4 separate regions of the Homo sapiens genome follow, and regions 1, 2 and 3 are each reported to be linked to region 4. Evidence: microRNA targets listed by miRTarBase, many of them from high-throughput screens and not tested one by one. Region 4 holds a microRNA gene; each other region holds the end of a gene's coding sequence. Distances are between the middles of the regions.

Evidence for each region. The annotated mature microRNA hsa-miR-4531 reads AUGGAGAAGGCUUCUGA and lies in region 4 at 921-937, shown strand. An mRNA with a match to its seed (bases 2 to 7 or 8) in the 3' UTR can be bound and repressed. Matches are read on the target gene's strand: a 7mer-m8 pairs with bases 2 to 8, a 7mer-A1 pairs with bases 2 to 7 and ends in A, and an 8mer does both.
Region 1: miRTarBase lists ZNF550 as a target of hsa-miR-4531. The part of its 3' UTR that is shown has no 7-base or 8-base seed match.
Region 2: miRTarBase lists NEUROD1 as a target of hsa-miR-4531. Seed matches in the 3' UTR shown: 7mer-A1 at 2,016-2,022.
Region 3: miRTarBase lists KIAA1958 as a target of hsa-miR-4531. Seed matches in the 3' UTR shown: 7mer-m8 at 2,069-2,075.

Annotation. Positions count from the first base shown.
Region 1 is chr19:57,544,305-57,547,528 of GRCh38, reverse strand. ZNF550 (zinc finger protein 550) reads left to right here. Exons shown (of 4, transcript NM_001397372.1): 4 at 1-3,224. The coding sequence ends at 554. Among named protein-coding and RNA genes, the nearest start is that of ZNF550, 14 kb to the left of the region's middle.
Region 2 is chr2:181,675,136-181,678,359 of GRCh38, forward strand. NEUROD1 (neuronal differentiation 1) reads right to left here. Exons shown (of 2, transcript NM_002500.5): 2 at 1,332-3,224. The coding sequence ends at 2,655. Among named protein-coding and RNA genes, the nearest start is that of NEUROD1, 3.8 kb to the right of the region's middle.
Region 3 is chr9:112,659,678-112,662,901 of GRCh38, forward strand. KIAA1958 reads left to right here. Exons shown (of 4, transcript NM_133465.4): 4 at 1-3,224. The coding sequence ends at 392. Among named protein-coding and RNA genes, the nearest start is that of INIP, 57 kb to the right of the region's middle. RefSeq lists a silencer at 818-1,018.
Region 4 is chr19:44,651,626-44,654,625 of GRCh38, reverse strand. MIR4531 (microRNA 4531) reads left to right here and starts at 894; the gene lies at 894-940. It overlaps PVR (PVR cell adhesion molecule), which reads right to left. Exons shown (of 8, transcript NM_006505.5): 4 at 609-726.

The DNA.
Region 1 (3,224 bases), 13 Mb from region 4:
CCTTTAGCCAGAGCTCAACTCTCATTCGGCACTACCTCATCCACACCGGGGAGAAACCATACAAGTGCCTTGAGTGTGGGAAGGCCTTCAAACGCAGGTCGTACCTCATGCAGCACCATCCAATCCACACTGGAGAGAAACCCTATGAGTGTAGTCAATGTCGAAAGGCCTTCACCCACCGGTCTACTTTTATTCGCCATAATAGGACCCACACTGGAGAAAAGCCCTTTGAGTGCAAAGAATGTGAGAAAGCCTTTAGCAATAGAGCCCACCTAATTCAACATTACATCATCCACACTGGAGAGAAGCCCTATGATTGCATGGCATGTGGAAAGGCCTTCAGATGCAGCTCAGAACTCATACAGCACCAGCGGATTCACACTGGGGAGAAGCCCTATGAATGCACCCAGTGTGGGAAAGCCTTTCACCGGAGCACGTACCTCATTCAGCACTCTGTCATCCACACTGGGGAGATGCCCTACAAGTGTATCGAGTGTGGGAAGGCCTTCAAACGCAGGTCACACCTTCTGCAGCACCAAAGGGTCCATACATGAGAGAACCCTATTGCTGCAATGAATACAGCAAGGCCTTTACCCACTGTTATTTTATCATTCATAATGGGACCCACACTGTAGGAAGAAGTCCTTCGAATGCAAAGAATGTCAGGAAACTTTTCATTTTTTTTGTCAGCTCTTTCTTAACTAACACATGAGCAGTCACTTTGGAGAGAAGCCCTGTGAATACAGTGAATGTAAGGATCCCTTCAGTCACCACTCAGTTCTCACTCATTGCAGAAGGATTCATACCAGGGGGAAATGTGGAAGGCATTCCATCAACATCAGAGAACTCATGCTGGAGAAAGACATTCCAAATATAACTATTAAGGACAGTCTTTGGCCAGAGCAGAAATCTTACTATCTGAGAATCATAATGAAAAGTTACTACATAATTGTTATTGATGTGAGAAAACTTTGTGACCAGGTTGTCACTTGCTTGTCCTATAAAGAGCCATGCTGGAATTTGACCCACCTTGGGATTTTCTCTATGAACTTATGAAAACCTTCAGTTACAGGTATCTTCTTGCTTTATGTCCTTACAGACTTCCCTGTAAGATCAGTTTTATTTTTTGGTAGGGGAATGTTTGAGAGGTAAAGGGGTTTTATTCCTTTTTTTTTTTTTTAACATACATTCACTGCCATCCTTTGTCAGAGTTAGACAGTGAGGGCAGCTCTTCAGGCATTTCTTGGAAGTTGCCTTTGATCCAGACATCTCTGGGAGGATATCCATGAGGAGAGTAATTCTTTGTGAGAAATATGAAGGCTTGTGTCATGAGATTCTTGAATTTAGTAGAAATTAGAATACTGAGAACATCTTCATGTGACACTTCTTTTTTATATCTAGGGTGAGAAGAACCCATGTACAGATGGCCACATTAAAATGTGCACCACATTAAAATGTGCAATACCTAAGACTGTTTAAGGCTTTGATTTTTATTAATAAACTCATTATTTTTTAAGAGACAGGGACTTGCTCTGTCACCCAGGCTAGAGTGCAGTGGCATGATCATAGTTCCCTGTAACCTCGAACTCCTGGGCTCAAATGGTCCTCTTGCCTCAAGTTTCTGAGTAGCTTGGGATACAGGCATACACCACTACGCCTGGCTAATGTTTGTAATTTTAGTAGAGACAAGGTTTTACCATGTTGGCTGGGCTGGTCTGGAACTCCTGGCTTCAAGTGGTCCACCTGCCTTGGCCTCCCAAAGTTCTGGGATTACAGGTGTGAGTCACTGCACCCAGCCTTAAATTTTTTTGTATAGATGAGGTCTTGCTGTGTTCCCCAGATTTGTCTCAAACTGCTAGACTCAAGTCATCATCCTGCTTAGCCTCCTAAAGTGTTGGGATTACAGGTGTGAGCCACCACACCTAGCCTAATATGGTTTCAAATGCTCAGCACTCTCACATTTTCCTGATTCCATTCTGTCTGTTTGTTGTCTTTATTTTCTCTGGCAACATAGTGATCACTTTGTACTTGCTTGGCCTTCTCAGATGAGTCCTAATTCTTTCTGGTGTTTATCAGATTCTTTAATCCTGTGTAGAGGGGTATTTTTAGGTCCCCCTCAGCATTTTTCTAGGGATTGAATTATAGCTAAAACAGGCAAAATAAAACACACAACTAAGATGAATCCATGGTAAACCCAGTAAACCCAAGAAAACAACATGGAGAGGAATCTCATTGTCTGATCTTATAAACATTTGCGTGAAGTTTTGCTACAAAATAAAGTGCCTAGCATTTTAACAGGTGAATCAGGATATACGTGGGCAGGTTTACGTGAGTTTCATAGTTAACCACCATGACCTTAGTCCCTTGGTGCTAGCACTGAATATGGTAATTAGTTTTGTTGTGTTTTGAGATGGAGTCTCACTCCGCTGCCTAGGCTGGAGTGCAGGAGTGCGATCTTGGCTCATTGCAACCTCTGCCTCCCGGGTTCAAGCGATTCTCCTGCCTCAGCCTCCCAAGAAGCTGGGATTACAGGCATGTACTACCATGCCCAGCTAATTTTTGTATTTTTAGTAGAGACAGGGTTTTGCCATGTTGCCCAGGCTGGTCTCGAACTCCTGACCTCAGGTGATCCACCCACCTCAGCCTGCCAAAAAGCTGGGATTACAGGTGTGAGCCACTGTACTTAGCCTGAATCTGGTAATTTGAAATTCCTTTTGTGAGATTTTCTTTTAGTTTTCAAGCTACATGAGATAATGTTAGGTTAAAACGTGTGAAAAATAGAAAATTATCATTTTCTCACTTTGAGCTTTCCTCACAACCTTTTAAAGCACTGCATATATATTCATGTTTTCATAGTGGGCATGTACCTTTTACTGTGGTCCTTTTGCACATATTATAAATAGAATTCTTGGTGAGTTAAGAGTTCTCTGTTTTTGTTTTTTCAGGACAGAGTGCACAGTTTCCTCTCCTGTGGGAAGGAGAGTTGACTCTTGAGGACCCCCACCCTCCTGCATCCTCTCTCTGGAAGGCTGCATGTATTGTAGCTGTGGCTGTACTTGTACCTAAGGCCCTGGGTTCAAGAGAGTTGGAGAAACCCCTCTAGAAACATATTGGCTGTCATCAAAGGGTTCTTTCCAGGCCTGAGGACCTAGGCCCCAGTTTGTCCCAAAGCAGGAGTGTTTTCCATGGGATAAAGGACACCCTAGGTTTTTCTTAGCTTCCAG
Region 2 (3,224 bases), not on the chromosome of region 4:
GCTTGATTCCAAAATAACAACTCTGATTCACTTGGAATGAGATTGCTGCATTTTAGATAAAGTTGGGACTAACTTAAAAGTATTTCTGTCATGTGATGAAGGCTGATAGAAAACATGTTAAAATAATATATTTTAAATTGCTCTCAAACATTTTTTTAACGTCGAAGTATTCCTTACTGCTTCTGTCACAGCTTGACGCAGCCTCATTGGCAATGTTATTAGTATGGCTAATTGTTCCTGTCCATTACATTACTCACATTTTTCTGGAGCAGCTTGCTAAATGAGGTCAGCTTTCTGGAACCCCTAAATCACCAATGAGAAGGAGATTAAAGGAACAAGCTTGGGAAGGGGGGTAGTCATCCAATGTGGCACCCGAATCAGAGTAGAAACAATGGAGTTACTAATGACAGTAATCAGAGCACCACAGTAGAGCCAGGGCACAAGTGCCAAAATGATATTCCCTAGGAATCATGACTGTCAGTCAATACATCCAGAGGAAAAGAAATGCCAAACTGTTTTTTTTTTTTTGAAGTGGACTTAACAATAGACAGAATCATCCATAAGTTTTTCCAGTGAGTTGTGTTCATGAAACAACAGAATAGTGCCCCAAAGGGTGGGGGGAGGAAATAATTACACCTTCCTAAATACAGTACAAATAGTGTGTTCTTCAGTACAAATAATCCATTATGCTTTTTCTTGGAAAAATGATGGAAATCATCACAAGATGTTAATAGAACAATTATAAAATGTTACTTCTCTTGGATTCTTTAAATTAATTAACTCATTTCCCTTTGGTACTTCCTAAAGGTGTATAAATTTTTCTGGGACAGTACTAGTTTGCAAGATAAAACTGTTTAGTTCAGAAAAATGTACAGATAACAGAAGACCAAGAAAATAGTAATGTTTTATACATCTTAAATGTATAGACAAACTAAGCTAGGATACTTGTTTATGTCTTGCTTGTTAATAATTATTAAAATCCACCTTTTAAAAAAAGAAATAGAAGAAAACATGTAACAATCATTTTTAAAAATGGAAATAAAAAACCTAAAGGCTAAGCCACTTAAAACAAAGAAAAAAACACACTGTTTGTACTGCCGTCCAGTCCCATATTCCAAATAATGAAATATCAGTTAGGTCTTTTCATTATCTACATAGAACTGGTGACTCCCTGTGCAAGATAAACAGACAAGAGCATATGCCAAGGTAAACTTTTTTCTTTTCTTTTATTCTACATATAGTGTTTAGTATTTTTTAACTCAGCAAAAAAGCAACTACTTTCCCCAAAAATAAAAACAGAATCCCTTTAAGAAGAAATGCAACAATTGCTCTCACTTTCAATACTATTTTATTGCAACTGGATGAATGTTTTCTAAATTGTGCATTACACCATAATATACAGGATTACAAACAAAATTACAGTACAGATCGATTCCAGTGGTACCAGCATCACATCTCAAACAGCACTTATTCTGGACTGCATTTTACATGCAATAGCTATTGTTCTAATTATGAATTAAATGGTTTGAATTTATTTAAGCTACTGTACTAATTGACTACTATAGATATAAATCCCAACATTAACAACCTGATTAGATTTAGGCTCAGATTTATTACATGAATATATGACAAACCACCATTTTTGTGACTATGTATAAAATCATGCATTTATATTTTCTGGAAACATCAATAGCTTCAGATTCTCTGTAAAATCATGGAATGCAAAGGAGTAAAAGACTAAAAAGTAACAGTGCAAATTGTATGTGATAGTCAAGCAGCTTTTGATTTAAAGAAGGGTATGTTGGCATTTATTTATAATATGTATATACAAGCTTGTGCAAGTAATGTGTTGAATTGATATGTTTTGATAGGGAATGTATCTCTTAATTTTTTCTTCTCTTGAAAATTATGATTCTGGTTTTTATTTTAGGGAGACGGAAAGACTTTAAAGTGAAATGAATTGCTCAAATTGTGCAATTTTTTTTTTTTTTTTTTTTTTTTTTTTTTTTTTACAATTGGAGAGGAAAGAAGTGCTAAGGCAACACAATAACTTTCTAAGCACTTTTCTGCTGGTTTAAATTAGTTAAATTATTTTGTATAAATTAGATATAATTCTACTTTTCTGATATGTATAAAAATTGATGAAGCTGCATGGTTTTAAAATAGGAAATCCACATTATAAAAAGTCATTAAAAATTCTGTACAAAATCACAACAAAATAATTCAGCATGGGAAAGGTAACAAGTAGTAAAATGCTGGTTGAAAAATATATATTTATATATATTTTAATTGGCCCATTACTAGTTTAAAAATTGCATAGATCCTAATTATTGCTTGTGATTTTGTTATCCCGATCAGATAATTAATACGATCTGAATACAGCCACACCAAATTCGTGGTGTATTTTTTAAACTTTACTGTATTTTTTTATTTTTTAAATAGAAGAGCTATAGAAAATAATACATAAGGTGAACAGGAACTTTGATCCCCTGTTTCTTCCAAAGGCAGTAATGACAATAAATACATATATCACTTGAAGCTTGGAGTATTTGCACTTTGCAGCAGTAGTACCCAAAGGGCTGCCTTTTGTAAACACGACAGTCACTGTAAGCACAGTGGGTTCGTTTCCCGGAAATGGTGAAACTGGCGTGCCTCTAATCATGAAATATGGCATTGAGCTGGGCACTCATGACTCGCTCATGATGTGAATGGCTATCGAAGGACATAATATTGTCTATGGGGATCTCGCAGCGAGGGGCAGCGGTGCCTGAGAAGATTGATCCGTGGCTTTGGGCCCCTGCCAGTGTCGCTGCAGGATAGTGCATGGTAAAGGCATAATTTTTCTCAAACTCGGCGGACGGTTCGTGTTTGAAAGAGAAGTTGCCATTGATGCTGAGCGGCGGGCTGAGGGGTCCATCAAAGGAAGGGCTGGTGCAATCAGTCAGAGGGCTTTCAAAGAAGGGCTCCAGCGCTGCGCTGTAGGCGTGCGGCGGAGGCTTAACGTGGAAGACATGGGAGCTGTCCATGGTACCGTAAGGCGGACTGGGCAGCCCAGGCGACTGGTAGGAGTAGGGGTGTACAGGGAAGGAAGCGCTGGCCGTCGGCAGGTGGGGGGGCATGTCCTGGTTCTGCTCAGGCAGAAAAGTCCGAGGATTGAGTTGCAGGCAGCCCGCAACCAGGTTGGTGGTGGGTTGGGATAAGCCCTTGCAAAGCGTCTGAACGAA
Region 3 (3,224 bases), not on the chromosome of region 4:
AAGACCCCCAAAACCAGCCCTACTTTGCCCGGACGGACAGCGTCAAGCGGGAGAGTCGGAGCGGCTCCACCAGAGTGTGTCACGGGAAGATCTACCATGAGCATTCCCGGGGACACAAACAGTGCCCTTACTGCCTCCTCTACAAGTACATGTACATCCACCGGCCGCCCACCCAAATGGAGGCCAAGTCCCCCTTCTACCTGACTGCCAGGAAGGAGGCCACAGACATGGGCAGCGTGTGGTATGAGGAGCAGAGGATGGGGCTGCGCTCTCTTCGGGGAATTGTCCCAAACTTAGCCAAGAAGGTCAAGCTGGAAAACTGTGAGAACTTCACCTTTGTCTCGTTCACTCAGGTCTCCCGGAGGCTTGGCTCCCACAGCTGCTGCCAGTGAGCCCCCACTGGGGCCCGGCCACTGCCCTGTCACCTGCTCGGGCCAGCCAGGGTTGGAGCAGCTGGAGCTCCTTGGAGGCAGGGGCTGACCAGGTGTGACCTCCCGGTCTGGCGGCTCTCCCCTGGTGTGGCCTGCCCTCCCTTTGACTTGGGGTTTGCTTTTTAAAATGAAACTAGATGAGTCTAAATCATTCGGATGGTTTATCCAAATGTGCGTCAACTTCGTTAGCTTTTAGAATCTAACACAATGTATAATTGTTACATACAAGAGTGAGGAAATTCATTTTCTCTAGTGCCTTTCTAGCACAGGTTTTCTCAAAACAAACAAACAAAAAAGGAAACTGTTAAGTAGTCGTTTAAAAAAAAAATCCCAGTAGCGCAGTAGCTTTAGAACGTTAGGAAGACTGTACACTTTGTTGAATTACACTCACAATTAGAAACTAGAGAGAGGCAGACACGTTCCCTATTTCCAGGAGACAGATTGCGCTTGATGCGCCTTTTTTTTCTGTTGGTGGATAAGGTGGTTCTGGAGGGCAGGCAGCCTTGTGTCGGGGAGTATCCTCAAGCGACACTTGGTCATCTGACAAGGACTTGGGCTGCTCCCACGGCTCCCAGCAGCGGTAGGAACCCCATCTCGGCTGTCAATGGAGAGAATTTTATGATAAAAGATTCACGCACCAGAAGGGTGTCTGTGAGAACAAGGCTTCTAGTGAACTAGACAGTTTGTACCATGAGGGAATTTCTAGTAGTGAAGGAAAATGGCTTGGAAAAGCCAATCTGTGATCAAAATGTGAAAACCTCCTGAAGCAGAAGTGCCTATGTTTTATTTCTCAGCACCATGTGAGAGCTCCTTTGATTGGAACATTTTTTGAGGTTTCTGTCTGTTCTTCGTGTCATCCCATTATTCGGTCAGCATATACCACTGGATCTATAAAACAACTAAAGGTAATTTTTAGTCTTAGCCAAGAAAAGCTAACCAAACAAGCTGCAAAAAACACAGATCCCCAAACTTTCTTTATTAAAGAGATTTGGAATATTTTTGTCAATGTATGACTTTTCAGCCACAATTACATGTCATCATTTTAGGATGGCACCAATACTTGGGACACGATGATTTAGGCACCCCACCAGGTAAGCAAACTCAGCATTAAGGATGTAGTTATAAAATTAGCGCATAATGGTAGGTAATGCAGTTTGAAACCATTTCACTCAGGTAAAATGCAACCTGACCACATTATTTAAAAATCAGCAGAATTTTCTAATAACTACTCTGAGTGCAACAACAAGTGAAAAAGGAGCTCAAAGAGTGCTCATTAAGAGTAACAATAATTTCTAGGGACCTTGACTTTGCATTTGAGGAAAATCTTGTGTAACTTTATTCCATTATGCTCCTAATATGCTTTCTAATCCCAAATTAAAACTCTAATACAAATTCATTTTGTAGAAGTCTTAAAATCAGTCCTCTTTCTTTTTGAAAACATTATTTTAGTATTTATTTTAATTAATTGGTTTCTTAAAAAATCATACACTAGTCATTGACATATGTAATACTTCCTTTACCAGAGAAGACTCAACCAATGCTGCCTTAAGATTTAATGTTATTCCCTTTTTAGTCACTGTGCATTTATAAGTTTGTTTACTAGTTGACCTTTCCTGAATAGAGATTAGTTTCGGCATTTCTCCATCTGTATATAAATAACAGGTAATATTTAATCATCAGTGTATGACTTGATATCACATAACGTTCTGGTGTGGTTTCCTGTAGTGATCTTAGGGTTTTGATTTAAAAGAAATACACAAAACATTAGGTACAATTTCCTTTAGTTTGCTAAACACCCAAAGGATATTTTGTTTTGTTGGTTCTGCACTTAAACTGAAATACAACCTATGTGAACTATTGGGCAAAGCCTGCAGCCTAATTAATTAAAACCTCCATTTTTATTTGAATAGATTCAAGTAGAAATTGCCGTTAGGAATCACTGGGATCTTTTCGGATTTTGACCTTTTCAAAGGTAGCAATAACTACTCCAGAGGTTGTAATCTTTCTGTTGGTAGTGGCTTTTCATCAGCTAAATAATCATCTCTGCCTCAAATGTGTTGCCTGTCACCTAGTTGATGTTCCATAAAATCCCTGGGTTCTGAAGTGAATTATTATAATTAATAATCAGGAGGGCGAATCTTCAGTGGCATCTGATGGAATGAAAGAACTGTGTCTGAGCAGCCTAAAAGCTGTTTGTGACATGCCACCTTGGGAAACAAGAGTGAGGAAGAAAACACAGTCATCAAGTGCCAGCGTGTGCCACCCATTGTACTAGGTACTTTATTATGCATTTATGTATATGTGTGTGTGTCTGTGTATACACACAAACACATATACATAAGTGTTTACACACACACACGCACAATATGTGGTTAAGCCTGGTAAGCCTGCTAAAATGGCAAAGCGGCCTGGCGCGTGGCTCACGCCTATAATCCCAGCACTTTGGGAGGCCAAGGTGGGCAGATCACTTGAGGTCAGGAGTTCAAGATCAGGACCAACATGGTGAAACCCCATCTCTACTAAAAATACAAAAATTAGCCGGGCGTGGTGGCAGGTGCCTGTAATCCCAGCTACTTGAGAGTCTGAAGCAGGAGAATTGCTTGAACCTGGGAGGCGGAGGTTGCAGTGAGCCGAGACCATGCCACTGCACTCCAGCCTGGGCAACAAAGCTAGACTCCATCTCAAAAAAAATAAAAAATAAAATGGCGAAGCACCTGTCCATGTGTTTGGCCAAAGCCGTCCTCCGAGGTCTTAAGGGGGCCAGAGTAGCAGTCCTCGTTGGCGTTCTAAGGC
Region 4 (3,000 bases):
CTTCTGCCCTCTCGTGGCTGGTCTTTAACCTGGGCAGGGCAACAGCTGCTGACTGTGCACAGCATGGGGTCACATGGGATTCGGGGGAAGTACCGGGCACAGAGCAGGCACACCCCAAAAAGCAGGTGCATCCACCAGCCAGGATTCAACCACCTGCTAAACGCCTCAACCGCAAAACAGAGATGTCAAAACAGAGATGCCCCCCACTGGGGGCCCGAAGTCAACCTCCTCTTTTTCTCTTTTCTGAATCTCCCTCCTCTCTTAGACCAGGAGTCCAGGCCCCAGTCTGTCCTGCCTCAGACCCAGGGGTCCAGGCTCCCAGCTTCTCCTCCCTCAGACCCAGGGGTCCAGACCCCCCAGCCCCTCCTCCCTCAGACCCAGGGGTCCAGGCCCAGCCCCTCCTCTCTCAGTCCCAGGGGTCCAGACCCCCAGCCCCTCTTCCCTCAGACCCAGGAGTCCGGGCTCCCAGCCTCTCGTCCCTCAGACCCAGGGGTCCGGGCCCCCAGCCCCTTCTCCCTCAGTCCCAGGAGTCCAGGCCCCCAGCCCCTCCTCCCTCAGTGCTAGAAATCCAGACCCCCAGCCCCTCCTCCCTGAGACCCAGGACTCACGTGCTCCAATTATAGCCTGTGGGCTCTGGGTTGCTGCGAGCATCGCAGGTCAGGGTGGCCTCATTCTGGCCAAGGTACCAGTTGTTATCATAGCCAGAGATGGATACCTCTGGGGGGTCTGCAGGAAATGGATACAGAGGTTCAGAGACTGGGAGGCTTTGGGGGGCCTGGGGCTACGCGGGATTCACGACACTGCAGGAAAAGGCCCGGGGATATTTGGAAAACAGCGGGAGCTGGAGAGGCCTAGGAGGAGTCTAGGTAGATGGGGTGCCACAGAGAGCAGAAGCCTAGGAGTCCTTGGTCAGTGGGGACATGGAGAAGGCTTCTGAGGAGCTGCTTTTCTCCACTAGCTTTCCTGGGTAGCCTGGACCAGGCATGTCTTGGGTGTCCTGCAGGAAAATGCCTCCTCCTTTTCTCACTCATAGGCAATGACCACTCACAACACACAGCAGTGTATTCAAGGTTCTGACAAGTCCTGCAGGAAAGAGTCCCAGATAACCCTGCTCTAGGCTGCTGCTCAGCCATCCCATACGTGATTGACAGCGAAGACCTTTCAATGTCCTTGGGGGCAGGCCAATGGGACAGGGTTTTATTCGGGGGCGAGGGGTAGGAGTCAGTGTAGATCTCCTCCTCGCTCAGACCCAGTGACAGTGTTGAGGGACTCCAGTATAGACAGTACCTGAGGGAATCTGTGTACCAATTGCCTGGCGGGGAGTAAGCAGTATAGACAATGGTGGGAGGAACAGTATGAATGATGTCTAGAAGAGCTTGTGTGGATATTACTGATGGGTTCAGTGTAGACAGGGTGTTGGAATATTACAGCAGATGCTATATTGTCGGGCCAGTGTTGAAAATGTGGTGGTGGGGGTGAGATCACCCCCACATATACAGTGTGTCCCCGGGAGCTGACGAAATTAAGACAGGCTCTGTGTATGTGTGTAGACAGTATTTGGATGAGCCAGTGTAGATGATGTGGGAGCTTAGTCTAGATCTGTGCTGTCCAATATGGCACCTACTGGCCACATGTGACTACTGAGCACTCGAAATATAGCCAGGCCGAAATACACACCAGATTTCAAAGGCTTTACTAGGACAAAATAAATGGGAAAGATCTCAAGAATAATTTTAAAAAAACAATTACAAGTTGAAATAATATTTTAGGTATATTGGGTTAAGTAAAGGCAATTATTAAAAATTAATTTTGGCCAGGCACAGTGGCTCATGCCTGTAATCCCAGTACCTTGGGAGGTTGAGGCAGGAGGATCACTTGAGCCCAGGAGTTTGAGACCAGCCTGGGCAACATAGGGAGATCCTGTCTCCAGAAAAAATAAAAATAGGCCGGGTGCGGTGGCTCACGTCTGTAATCCCAGCAATTTGGGAGGCCAAGGTGGGTGGATCACGAGGTCAGGAGTTTGAGACCAGCCTGGCCAACATGGTGAAATCCCGTCTCTACCACAAATACAAAAATTAGCTGGGCACTGTGGCCAGGGCTTGTAATCCCAGCTACTCGGGAGGCTGAGGCAGGAGAATCACTTGAACCCGAGAGGCGGAGGCTGCAGTGAGTTGAGATCGTGCCACTGCACTCTAGCCTGGGTGACAGAGCAAGACTTCATCACAAAACAAAAAAACAAAAACAAAAACAAAAACAAAAATTAGCTAGGCATGGTGTCACACGCCTGTAGTCCCAGCTACTCAGGAGACTGAGGCTGAGGTGGGAGGATCACTTAAGCCCAGGAGGTTGAGGCTGCAGGGAGCTGTGCCACTGCACTCCAGTCTGGGTGACAGAGTAAGACCCCGTCTCAAATAAATAAATAGATAAATAAATAAACAAATAAATTTCATCTCTTTCTTTTCTTGTTTTTGAGATGGAGTTTTGCTCTGCTGCCCAGGCTGGAGTGCAATGGCGTAATCTCGCTCATTGCAATCTCCGCCTCCCAGGTTCAAGTGATTCTCCTGCCTCAGTCTCCCGAGTAGCTGGGATTACAGGCACCCGCCACCGTGCCTGGCTAATTTTTGTATTTTTTAGTGAAGACAGAGTTTCACCACATTGATCAGGCTGGTCTTGAATGCCTGACCTCAGGTGATCCACCTGCCTCGGCCTCCCAAAGTGCTGGGATTACAGGCGTGAGCCACCGTGCCTGGCCTCTTTCTTTTAATTTTTTAATGGGGTGGCCGCTGGAGAATTTAAAATCCTATATGCAGCTTGCATGCTATTTCTGTTAGACAGCACTGGTTAGAGAGTCCTGGGGCTGTCAGTGGAGATAAATGTGTGGGTGTCAATGTCGATGATGCCATGAGGGAGCTGGTGGAGGTAACGCTGTGCAGGAGAATCAGGACAGATGCTGTCAGGGGGCTGTGCAGACAGAACACAAGGAGGCCAGTGTGGTGATGT